3 separate regions of the Homo sapiens genome follow, and regions 1 and 2 are each reported to be linked to region 3. The links are microRNA targets in miRTarBase. Many come from high-throughput screens and were not tested one by one. Region 3 holds a microRNA gene; each other region holds the end of a gene's coding sequence.
The links. The annotated mature microRNA hsa-miR-6861-5p reads ACUGGGUAGGUGGGGCUCCAGG and lies in region 3 at 1,628-1,649, shown strand. An mRNA with a match to its seed (bases 2 to 7 or 8) in the 3' UTR can be bound and repressed. Matches are read on the target gene's strand: a 7mer-m8 pairs with bases 2 to 8, a 7mer-A1 pairs with bases 2 to 7 and ends in A, and an 8mer does both.

Region 1: the mRNA of NIPA1 is a reported target of hsa-miR-6861-5p. Seed matches in the 3' UTR shown: 7mer-A1 at 198-204.
Region 2: miRTarBase lists MLX as a target of hsa-miR-6861-5p. Seed matches in the 3' UTR shown: 7mer-m8 at 1,012-1,018 and 7mer-m8 at 1,991-1,997.

Annotation. Positions count from the first base shown.
Region 1 is chr15:22,823,985-22,828,122 of GRCh38, reverse strand. It overlaps NIPA1 (NIPA magnesium transporter 1), which reads right to left. Exons shown (of 5, transcript NM_144599.5): 5 at 1-4,138. The coding sequence ends at 3,884. Among named protein-coding and RNA genes, the nearest start is that of NIPA2, 13 kb to the left of the region's middle. RefSeq lists an enhancer at 482-1,234.
Region 2 is chr17:42,570,819-42,574,961 of GRCh38, forward strand. It overlaps MLX (MAX dimerization protein MLX), which reads left to right. Exons shown (of 8, transcript NM_198204.2): 8 at 729-2,385. The coding sequence ends at 785. It overlaps PSMC3IP (PSMC3 interacting protein), which reads right to left. Exons shown (of 8, transcript NM_016556.4): 4 at 3,281-3,392; 5 at 2,660-2,805; 6 at 2,493-2,546; 7 at 2,289-2,348; 8 at 1,492-2,206. The coding sequence ends at 2,150. Among named protein-coding and RNA genes, the nearest start is that of PSMC3IP, 4.8 kb to the right of the region's middle.
Region 3 is chr12:112,160,801-112,164,943 of GRCh38, reverse strand. It overlaps MIR6861 (microRNA 6861), which reads left to right and starts at 1,623; the gene lies at 1,623-1,686. It overlaps HECTD4 (HECT domain E3 ubiquitin protein ligase 4), which reads left to right. Exons shown (of 76, transcript NM_001388303.1): 73 at 669-835; 74 at 1,207-1,402; 75 at 1,680-1,902; 76 at 2,421-4,143. The coding sequence ends at 2,557.

The DNA.
Region 1 (4,138 bases), not on the chromosome of region 3:
TGTCAGACACCATGAAAAGAACAACTTCAGAACACGGAAGCTAATCCATGCTGTCGGGAACAGACCTTACACTGAAATGTTCTCTTTCTAGTTTCCTGCTTGGTGGCAGGAAGCCTAAGTCAGCATCGAGCAGGTGTCAGGTCGAAGCGGCACAACGGGAGGGGCTCTGGGAACCACCGGAGTACTCTCTCCCCTCTTCTGGGTTAGCTGAGCAGCTTGAAGAAGAGGAATCCCCCGACCAGACAGAAGGGCAGCAGCCTGTGCCCATCACACCTGTTTCCACGGACCAGGTGTCCGTGCACACCTGGGAGACACTGCATCTCCAAAGTCTAGAACTGGCCCCTAGAAGTTGAGCACAACATTTACAAAGAGCTGAGTCATCTAGGAAGAAGGAAAATAAGACGACTGCACAAGTGAACAGTGCTCACTTCTACCAGAAAACAGATGTGAAATCCAAAGAAGAACAAACACCAACATATTACCGCTGGGATGAACTTCTGGAAAGACAACTGGGTGTAGTAAATTGGCTTGAAGAGCAGGAATTGAAAGAATATTCCTTATTGCTGAACAAAGAGCTGCGAAGTATATTCACTAACATTCTGATAGGAAAAGATCTCAATGAGAGCTGAGCAAGGCCACCAGAATACCAAATTCCTCCCCAAAGTCCCCAGCATGGGCAGGGCCTCACTCCATGTGGCACTGGAAGGACTTCCCTCCCCAGCACCTTCTCCACAGAGATGGCATGGTCCTGCCAGCCGGGAAGATGCTCCAGGGGGGCTTTGTGGTGCTGGGTTAGGGTTAGAATCCTTAATTGGCCCTACCTTTGATCAATGAGCAGAACAGGAAGCAATCCTTTCAAATGCAAATATTCAGAGGAGAAAACAAGGCATTGCCCAAGAAGAGGAGAGAAATAGCCTATTTAAGTATCTATCAAGAGAAATCTGCATATTGTGATCAAAACCTTTGATTTTAGAGGATGCTTGAAAACAAGTATACAGTAAGCATCTTTTTTTTCAAAGAATAGTATGATAATGAAAATATTTCAAGTACATGTACTTTTGGAAAGACCACTAAGAGATCTATCCATGTTCTAGGCCCTCCCCCAAAGTTCTCACTTTGGGGCTTTTTCATTTTCAAATGAATGATGAAAACATAATTTTTTAAAATAAATACTATCAAATCAGAAGTTATATGCTCTATATTAAATTTGAAAATTAGACTGTTCAACCACTGGTCATGTCATTTACTTTGAGGCTGGTGTCACGTGCTTGAAAAACAATGGATGATATGAACTTTGTTTCACTGGAAGAAAAGCTATGTATCCTACTGAAGTATCTGCTGAACAGAGGTAAACCTGAAAGATTCTAACTGTCCCAGGACCAGTCACCTTCAAGGGTAGAAGAGCTATTAATACTTTTGAGATTTTGTTTTACTCTAAGAATATTATAGAGAAGATCATCGGGTATCACCTCTCAGTATCAATGGTATAATTGTGGATTAAAATATACTAAGGTACACCAAGAGCTGCCTTTAAACTAAATTTCCCACAAAAGCTGTAGCAACACAAACATGATCATTTTCATGTGACACATGAACTTTCTCATTACACTTGTTAGCCACATGTATTCTTTGAATATCTCACACCCCTTACCTAGGAAACTATTTTTATGCCCAAAAGTATATTGATACTGCTACATTACGTTTTCAGAAAGTTCAGTTCAGTAAGTTAAGGCCTGCATTTCTAAAAGCACTGATGATAAAACACAAAACCTGCAAGAGCCAATAAAAAGAGTAATGGACTTTGAGCATTTGTTAACCATCCATTGAGAGGATTTAAGATTTTTAAAAAATAATGTTGTTGCTGCTCTCAGTTCACAAATCACTGACAACCCATGATCATCATGTACACGTTTACTCCATAAAGGTATTTTTCTCTCTATATTAAACTAGTCTCATTTTATTTAGCCTCTTTACTCAACACTTTAGGAAGCTATTCCTTGAGACTTTAGAAATGTTCTTTTTGCCTACAAAAACACATTTTTTTTCTTACTGAGGAACTTTAATTGGGTACTATTCAATTTTATGTTCTACTTCACCTAATCTACTTTACCCAACCCCATCTTTCAACTTGGCGTAGTTCCCTGCTGAGATAAAACACTGGCCATGAAGTACATGATACCGTGGTGAAATATGTGCATCACTTCATGCTATGCTCCCATTTGGAACACATGGATGGGAACACTATAGACAGAGAATGACCTCTTTGATTCAAATACTGGCATAATTAATGGCTCTTTTGCATTTAAGACACATAATGAGAGGTTAGCTGAGGAACTCTAGGATGCTCTGCCATTGCAAACAACAAGGAGATGGCTACATTTATTGGCTTTTTGTTAGAAAATCTTTCAAAAACTGCATATTGCAATTTGTAGAAGCTAGCCTAACCTCAATTGTGTCCTTTAACTTGTTCCTGTATGACAGGGTACTCGATATATGAGCTATTGAACAGGTACTCTCCCACTTAGCCTTATTATCAAGTTACCTAATTTATTTCTTCTGAATGGCCATGAATGCTTGCTGATAAAGAATGTGGATATATTTGATACTGGATCCCAGGTAACACAGATCGAATACAAATAAAATAATACCTCATGCTACTTAAATCAACTGTCTTTAATTGGACAATAATCACATGTTAAAGGGGTCAATTTGCTCTAATGTGTCTTTAGTCTTGACTATCTTCCAGTGAATATACAGTCATGAACCACGTAACCATGTTTCTGTCAAAGACATACCACTTACATGACGGTGGTCCCATAACATTGTAATACCATAGTTTTACTGTACCTTTCCTATGTTTGTAAACACAAATACTCACCACTGTGTTACAATTGCCTGCGGTATTCAGTGCGGTCACATGCTGTACAGGTGTGTGGCCCAGGAGCAACAGGCTGTACCATCTGGCCTGGGTGGGTCATAGGTGTCCCATCTAGGTTTGTATAAGTGCACTCCATGATGTTCACACAATAAAGTCACCTTACAATGCATTTCTCAGAATGTTTCCCTATCATTAAGTGACATGTGACTGTATTATTTCTAACTGCCTTATACATTTGTAACTTGAATATTGAAATATTAAAGCATACTCGAAGTTGCATTATTCTAATCTAAGAACATATACACATTAAGAGTCAAATTAAGTTAATAATTCAAGTGATAAAGGCACTGAAATTGATTTGAGCTATTGAAAAGTCATCCTGCCAGTGGAACACTACCTCATGTTCATTAACTCTTCTCTCTCTCTCTATTTACTATTAAAATGTCTTGGGTGGGGGTGGGGGTCGAAGAGTCAACTTGTCAGAGGATTAAAAACAATTCAATGTATATGCCTCTTATTTGGATGACATACTTGAATGTTATACATGCTTAATGCAAACTAACACAACTACAGACACATTCACTGTACAGTGCCAGAGTTCAAGACAACAATCTCTCATTCCCAAAGTAATCTAAGTAAAAATATCTCTGCTATCATGTAACAACTAACCAGAAAGAGCCCATCTTTTTCTGTTTAAATAATGTTAAAATGTTTTAAAAGAAGAGAATATTCATGAAAGCTTCCAGGTTAATGGAAATGAAAATGAGATTCGTCTCATCAGAGAGAGATGGTGCCAGGCAACCGTTGGGGACGTTTGGGCTGCAGAGGGCTGGCTGGGCCTCTGCTCTGGTGCTGAGCCATGCTCCCCGCTATCCACCAGACCACCTGTTACTATCCAGTCAATTCTAACACCATGATCGAGGACCTCTTCTACTTCACATCCAATCACGGCCAGAAACCACCTCCAATGCCTATTCCTCGAACCATCCAAGCTCCTATTGCAATCTAGTCTGTTTTCATATTAGATTTGTTCATCTCCCCAAGGTTGAAATTGAACTCTTTGAACACCTGTATAAGGACAATCCCCACGGAGACGGTCGTGAATCCACAGGCCATCCCCAAGAAGTCCACCAGGCCCACGTTGCTCCACTCCCGGAAGAGGATGGCTGAGGCCAGCAGGACCAGCGTGGTAAACACGACGTAGTAGATGGCCCCGAACACCGAGGAGTCGAAGCACTCCAGCGCCTTGTTGATGTACCT
Region 2 (4,143 bases), not on the chromosome of region 3:
CCAATTTTTTGTATTTTTTAGTAAGACGGGGTTTCACCGTGTTAGCCAGGATGGTCTCGATCTCCTGACCTTGTGATCCACCCGCCTCGGCCTCCCAAAGTGCTGGGATTACAGGCATGAGCCACTGTGCCTGGCCTCGTTTCCCAACATTTTTATTGTGAAACACATTAAACATATTGCGATGTTGAGAGGAGTTCACAGTGAACACTCGTATACCCGCTCCCTAAATTTTACCGAAACATTTTACTATATTTCCATCTCTCCATCTTGCTTCAGGAGCACCTCAAATTAAACTGCAGACATCAGTACTTCCTGGGGGCTTTTTTTTTTTTTTTTTGAGACGGAGTCTCACTCTGTCACCAAGGCTGGAGTGCAGTGGTGTGATGTCAGCTCACTGCAACTTCCACCTCCTGGGTTCAGGCGATTCTCATACCTCAGCCTCCTGTGTAGCTGGGATTACAGGCATGTGCCACCACACCTAATTTTTGTATTTTTAGTAGAGACGGGGTTTCACTATGTTGGCCAGGCTGGTCTTGAAATTCAGGTGATCCACCCGCCTTGGCCTCCCGAAGTGCTGGGATTATAGGCGTGAGCCACCACACCTGGCCCCCGGGGGGCTATTTTTAAAGCACTTTTCTAAAGTACATGGCTGATCTAGGCAGGCATCTTGGAAACTACTCTGCGTTGACTTGGGCATTGTCTATTTCTTCCTCTGCTGCCCTCGCCAGACCCTGCGGGAGATTGTGATTGGCGTCCTGCACCAATTGAAAAACCAGCTTTACTGACCGGTTCTTGGAAACCTGGAGAACAGCCAACAAGAGGCCCTTGAATCTCTACGTGGCCACTGAACTGCTGGGCCCGGGAGACTGGACTACAACACCTCACACTGGTCAGCTGGTTTCTACTTGGTGTTTGGTTTTTCCCAGCCCCATTTTATCTTCAGCGGAGCCGCGGTGTTTGTTTTGTGAAAGCTTCTGATTAATTTATTATATTGACGATAAAACTCAAACCTACCCAGCCTTCCCCCCACTCCATGGAAGTCCTTGGGATGGGCGTCTGCTCTGGACACCCCAAAGAGCTCCTGCCCTCTCAGCCCTTTATTCAAGCCTCAGATTTCTGCTCATGATCTACATAGATTTGGAAACTGTTTTCCTCTGTTTTGGTCTCTTGGGCAACATTTTTGGCCCAAGTTTGGGCAACATTTGGCCCAAGTTTGGGCATTTTGGCAGTAGCTGTATGGGAGAAAAAGAGTAAGAGGAAATATTCCCACAGCCATGAAGGGTGAAAGGGCACCTTGTGCCTAGACTAGGGCTGCCTGGTCAGTCCCAGGTGAGGCCAAGGGCTTTCTGGCCATCTCAGGGAGGGGCCACCAGGTTCCTCCCCTCACCCCATATTCCATCACCTTCCTCCTCTGCTCTGGGTGGTAAGGGAAGCCCTCCCGGTTCCCACAGGCTATGATGCTGCATGGCAGAGGCAGGTATAACACAGCACTACATATTGGAAATTTTTTATTTTTCTAAATACCAATGCAGTTTTGCTACGGTTACAATTTTGAAATATTAACTGAGCCTCAAAATCACCCTTTCTGTCAAGCATATCTTGGCCTCTCCCATGTCTCAGTGTTGCCTGCATTTCTCCCAGGACTTGGGGGTGGGGTGAAAAGCGTACAAAAGATACTTAAAAGGGCTCCTGGGGTACACAAGCCCAGCAGGTCCTGAGTGAAGCCGTGGGCCCTCCAAATGCTCGTTTTATAGCAACCTCTCTCTACCCTAGTTCTCCAAATTCACTTCTGCCTTCCTCAGGTTTGATATCTGGCAGGTTTGACTATCCAGAGGAAATTAAATATTTTTATATAAAATTAAATTATAATAAATATTGCCAAATGCTTTCCTTTAGCATTGTTCCAAGTCTAAATGTTAACCTCAAGCTACTGCAATTTAGACAATGAAATGGGCTGGGTCTACCCCCAGCCACCAGCCCTCATCCTCTCTACCCAGTGCTCTGGTTTATGCTTGTCTCCTGACTGCTCTGCTTAAAGGTGAAAGTAGCAGGAACAACAACAAAAGCCAACCAAAAACAAGGTAGCCAGTGCAAGACATCTCACTCTTCTGACATCCTGCAGTCCCCACCAGTCCTGACCGTGGGCCCCTCAGGGGTCTGGGAGTGTGACGTTGTAATCTTCATCCGTCTCTATCCCAACTTCCTCCTGTGAGACAGGGAGACAAGTGAATGAGATGTCACCAGGATAAGACCACAGGGAAGCAAAGAAGGAAGAGAGCTCCACTTACAAAGAACTGCTTCTTGCTCTTGGGGTATCCTTCAAGTATTGCATCAGACAGCTCTGTAGCCTGACAAGAAATAAAACCACCCGTTTTCAGATGGGCAGCACTGGGCACTGCCTGTCAGTTTATGATATTGTGTAGCGGCTGATCTGGTGCCTGCCATTTTCAAAGGCACCTCCAGGGCCTGTCTCGGAGCTCCCACACACTTACCATCCTCTTCCTCTTCCTCCACTCCTTACAGTACTTCTGCCTCTCTCTGTACACCTAGAAGGAAAAAGCAAGTTCCTCTAACTCCTCAGAACCACAGCAGCCCTCTGGGGCTCAGCCCTGATGTTCACTCTGGACCTGCACAGCGGTCCTACAGCCTTCCAGCTCACCTGCTCTTTCTCTTCTGGAGTCACATGATTGGTAGCTGCTTTAATGTTCTTCAATCTCTCTCTGTAGCCAGCGCATTCCTTCTTTAACTCCTGGATTTCTTTCTGCATCTCTGGTGTGGTCAGGGCACTAGATAATTCCTTGAGCTCTGAAACCACATCCGCCTGGGGTCACTTGCTACCCCTGAGGAAGGAGTTCTGTCTTTCCCAGTGGGTGCTCCCTGAGGTGTTCCACCTTGCTCTGGATCTATCATCTCACATGGAAACTAAGCCATACAGGATTATTTATTCTTCTAATTTTCTTTCCTCCTCCATCTACAAGTGGCGTGGGTGTGAGGTTGAACACTTACTTAGGCGTAGCCAGTTAAAGAAGCAGGAATAAAGGGAAACGTGGGGACAGTGTACTGATAATCGTGGCAGGGAGAACAAATGCGTATCTTGTCCATTTGTTGGTACACAAAAGCCGTTAGTTATCCTACATTTCTTTTTATGCCTAAGGGAGCCCAGCAAAGGGGTCTTAGCTGCAACAAGATGCTGCAGTCATTGAACCATTCATTTAGTAATTCCTGACCTCTAGAATGAACCTAAGCCTATGGGCACTTTGGAGGGGCTACCCAGTCCTACCAGCCTCCATGTAGCGGCAGCTCTGCTGCAAGCTCTGCACCTTAGCAGTGAGGGCCACGATTTTGCCATCTAGGACTTGAAGGTCAGCATCACTCACCATGTCAAACTGGTCCTGCCAGACAAAGAGGGAAAATACAAGTGAACTGTTGTGAGGCACAAAGATGGGAACACACACCTGGGAAGGCACCATTTGGATATGCTCAGGAACCAGCCACACCCCAAAGTCTCCAGAGGGTCTGCAGAAATAGTGGGAGAGTACTTTTGAGAAATTGTTTTCAGTTAAGGAGCGGCCCCACTAAAAAGGTAGGAAAGAAAAGCTGAAATCTAATGCTTGTCCTTAAGCTACTAGGTTGACAGGATACTGATTAGGACAGAAATCTTCCCATTTAGTGATAAAACCACTACCTGGGCTGAAGCAGTTAAGTAACATTGTTCCCACGGTGGGGAAACCTAGATCATGGGTTTCCATAATAGATAGAAACTGGACAGGTGAAGAAGCATGATGGATGGGATGGATGGACTTCTTTTCTTCTTCCTTCCTGTCCTTTCTTCCCATCCTTCTTTCCACCTTCCTCTCTCCCTCCTTCCTTCCTTCCTTTTTCCTCCCTCCCTCCCTCCTTCCCCCTCCCTTTCCCTCTCTCTTTCTCTCTCTTTCTCCCTCCCTTCCCTCTTTTCCTCTCTTTCTTTCTCTGTCACCCAGGCCAGAGTGCAGTGGTGCAATCTTGGCTGACTGCAACCTCCGCCTCCTGGCTTCAAGCGATTCTCATGCCTCAGCCTCCTAAGTAGCTGGGATTACAGGCGCGCACCACCAAGCGCAGCTAATTTTTGTATTTTTAGTAGAGAAGGGGTTTCACCACGTTGCC
Region 3 (4,143 bases):
AAAAAAAAAAAAAGAAAAAGCGGTCTGGGTGCAGTGGCTCACACCTGTAATCCCAGCGCTTTGGAAGGCTGAGGCAGGTAGATCACCTGAGGTCAGGAGTTAGAGACCAGCCTGGCCAACATAGTGAAACCCAGTCTCTACTAAAAATACAAAAATTGACCAGGCATGGTGGTGGGCGCCTGTAATCCCAGCTACTCGGGAGGCTGAGGCAGGATAATTGCTTGCACCCAGGAGGCGAGGGGTTGCAGCGAGCCAAGATTGCGCCATTGCACTCCAGCCTGGGCAACAAGAGCAAAACTCCGTCTCAAAAAAAAAAAAAAGCAAGCATAATTAGCCTCAAGCAGTCTCTCCCAGCGCACGGGCAGAGGTGGCCTCCAGTGGTAAAGGGTTTCCCATCATAGTCGGTCCATGCCAGTGAGAGAGGATCGCTGCCTCCAAACAGACGTGGGAAGAGGCCTGGAATGTGGGTCTCTTTAGCCTGGCCTGGGTCACACGCCCGGCCCTGAACTGATGGCAGGTTCTGATTGGCGAAAGCTGTGTCACATGCTCATCTACACGGCCGAGGGTAGACCCCACCAGCTGCGCTTGGGGTTTACCCAGCCACCTGGGGATCAGGGTTCCACCTCCCATGGCCTCATAATGAGCCTCGCTCTGCCTCCACCCTCCAGATCAATGATGAGACCGAGCTGGAGGCCCTGTGCGCTGAGATCGCCTCCCAGCACCTGGCCACGGAGAGCCCTGACAGCCCCAACAAGCCCTGCTGCAGGTTCACCTACCTGACCATGACGGGCGAGGAGGTGGAGCTGTGCAGCCGGGGCCGGCACATCCTTGTGGCGTGAGTGTGTGCGCGTGTCAGGGGCTGGCAGGGGCTGGCCCGGCCAGCCAGCCAGGGTATGACAGCAGCATCTGTTCCTGGGCAATGACACGAGGACCTAGGTCAGGTGACAGGTGGATTTCACCAGGAGAGGGAGATGAGGCAGGATGGTGGGTGCCAAGAAAGAGGGTCCTCAGCAGAAGGGGTTTACTAAGAAAACAGCAGCTCTGAGGCGGCGGCACCAGAGGCAGGAAAGGACTGGGATGACCAGGGCGGCTGGGCCCCAGGCCTCTCCCAAGAGAGGATCCGGGACCTCCAGCTGAGTGGGTGTGGCCCCCAGACCCAGCCTCTTCGGCGGTGTTCTCCCTCACCTGTGCTCCTCACCCGGGCAGGTGGGAGAACAAGGACATCTACGCGGCAGCCATCCGGAGCCTGCGGCTGCGGGAGCTGCAGAATGTGGAGTGCGTGACGGCCGTGCGGGCCGGCCTGGGCTCCATCATCCCCCTGCAGCTGCTGACCATGCTCAGCCCACTGGAGATGGAGCTGCGCACCTGCGGCCTCCCCTACATCAACCTCGAGTTCCTCAAGGTAGACATCCCAGGGCCAGGCTGGGCGGGGAGGTGGTGAGCCCCAGGCGTGCCTCCCTGTCACCCTCAACTCCAGCAGCAGGCATCGGCAGTGGCCTGTCTCAGCTCTGTCCTTGCCACAGACCTGTATCATTGTCATCATTGTCATCTCCCTGTGCTCACAGCCCACACGTTGCACCCTGCCCCAGGATTGGGCCTGGCCTGCAGACCCCAGGGCTGGGGAGGCACTGGGTAGGTGGGGCTCCAGGGCTCCTGACACCTGGACCTCTCCTCCCCAGGCCCACACCATGTACCAAGTGGGGCTGATGGAGACGGACCAGCACATCGAGTTCTTCTGGGGGGCCCTGGAGATGTTCACCCAGGAGGAGCTGTGCAAGTTCATCAAGTTTGCCTGCAACCAGGAGCGCATCCCGTTCACCTGCCCCTGCAAAGATGGGGGTCCCGACACTGCCCATGTGCCCCCGTACCCCATGAAGATCGCCCCCCCAGATGGCACAGCAGGTACCGCCCTCCCCTGGCCATGTCCCAAGTAGGGACACACTAGCCTTTCTCTGTTTGGAACTGGGGCTGCCAGGCCCCATGTGAAGGGAGAACAATGAACAGGAGCCCCACGTGCCAAAACTCAGACATCATTGAGGATTAGGGCCCGGCAGGAACCAGCCATACAGGCCTGCTGTTAGATACTTTCTCATATCTTAAAAGAAGCTGAAAATCCAGAATGCTTCAAATCTTCTAACTTTTAAATGCAGAAAAATGGTTAAAAAAAAAAAAAAAGAAACAATTTGCTGGGCAGACAAACCCATCAGCAGTTTGGCACATGCGCTGTCCAGCAGCTCTCTCCCCTTTTCCCTCCAAGAACATCTCGCAGGTTCCCAGGCCCTCATCCCCCTCCTGCTGGGCCCCAGGATTGGCTTGGGGCTACCCAAGGAGGCAAACCTGGAAGCAGAGGCCAGCCCAGCTTCCCTGGGAGCCTCACAGATGTGGGCCCAACCCTCTGATGCTGGCTCGGTTTCTTGTAGGTTCCCCAGACTCTCGCTACATCCGCGTGGAGACCTGCATGTTCATGATCAAGCTTCCCCAGTACTCCTCTCTGGAAATCATGCTGGAGAAACTTCGTTGTGCCATTCACTACCGTGAAGACCCCCTCAGTGGCTGATGGGAGGGAGCCCCAGAATTAGGCTGTCACTGAGGCACCCACTCTGCTGGCTTGGGAAGCCACCACTGCGGCCCGTCCCTCCAGGGCCCTGCGTGAGGAGTTGGCAACATTTTGCTTTTCCAAACTTTCGTCCACATTCCAGGGCCTCCTGGAAGACTTAACCTTTTGTCTTTGTACGTTTCGTGATGGGTTGGTTCTTTTGCTGCCTGTTTGTGGTCTATTTGTAGGATAGTTTAGTTCCCAGACAGTTTGTGTCTAATTTGATCTTCTTGGACATTGTCCCTCATGGCCACCAGATTCTAATGCCATAAGGCCCCAGCTGGTTCCCCATCACAGAACCACCCAGCAGGAAGCCGGGGGTACAATGACCTCGGCCACACAGAGCGCTCGTGCTTTCAGCAGAGCGCCTCCACAGACAAGCCTGTGGCCAGCCCTGCCCTCCAGCCTCGAGCTGGAGTTGCTCCAGAGGCAGCCCCAGCAGGCCTCCCTCCACATAGAGGTGGCTGGGCCAATTGCCCAAACACGTGAGACACACAGGGAGCTTTATGTGTTCATCTTCCTGCTTTAGAACTTGCTCCCGGTCTTGGTTTTTCTGAGGAAAAGCCCACAGTGGTTCCCCTGCCCCTCCCATACCTCCCTATCTGCCGTCTGTCTCTTTGGGCCCTGGTCTGACAGTTTTCATCTGAGGCCTCCTCGGGAGCAGGAGACTTAAGGGTTCATCCCGACCTTAGTTCACAGAGCCTAGCTGGGTGCATCCCAGCCGCAGGGGGTGAGAAGACACCCAGAGATGGGGGACAATGCTCAGGTGGGGGCCTCCTCCGAGACTCTGGTTGAGAGGAAAGCACATGATTCAAGCCTACCCCACAAAAAAGGAGCACAAAATGCTCAGAAATGGCCCTTCCTCCCTGCAGTGACGTAGGACAAGGGAAAGGGCCACACCCATTTTCAAAAGAGTGGACTGAGGTGCTCTGCTCAATTTGGGGTCTGCTTTAGTGACCCAGACACTCAAGTCCAGATGGAGACTCCAGGGGGGTCCTTCTGCCCCTCTGGCCAGCCCCACCCAGCACTCCCCATCACCCCATGTAAGTGTGTATGCCAGGGCTGAGCTGCCTCCAGGCTCACCCACTGCATCTTTGCCCCAAATAGGTCTTTGTCCAGTGGTACTTTGTTCATGAGCAGCACAGGCCATCTTGTTGGACACTGTCACTTTGGGCCTTGCCAGGTCTCACAGAATCACATCGCTGTATTTATTGTATAATATTGTGAATATTGGAAGTTTTGAGTGAGTGCTGTCTAGAAGGTTTTGGAGTGTGGATGCTGGTCCAAGAAAGAAGATGTGCCCTGGCCTGCTGGAAAGATTGTGAATTCTAGAGATAGAGCCGTTAGCATCCATCTCCTCCCTGTAACTCTTAGGAAATGCATCAAGGACCATTATAGAAAGGATCCCCTGACCTAAGGATGAAATCGACCTAGGGTTAATCATGACAGCTGCATCAGTTGTATTGGATGCAAGTCAACTCTGGAGGTGAGTGCCCGCAAGCAGTTCCCCTGCTTTGAAAGAAGATGGTCAGCCCGCTGCCTCCCCA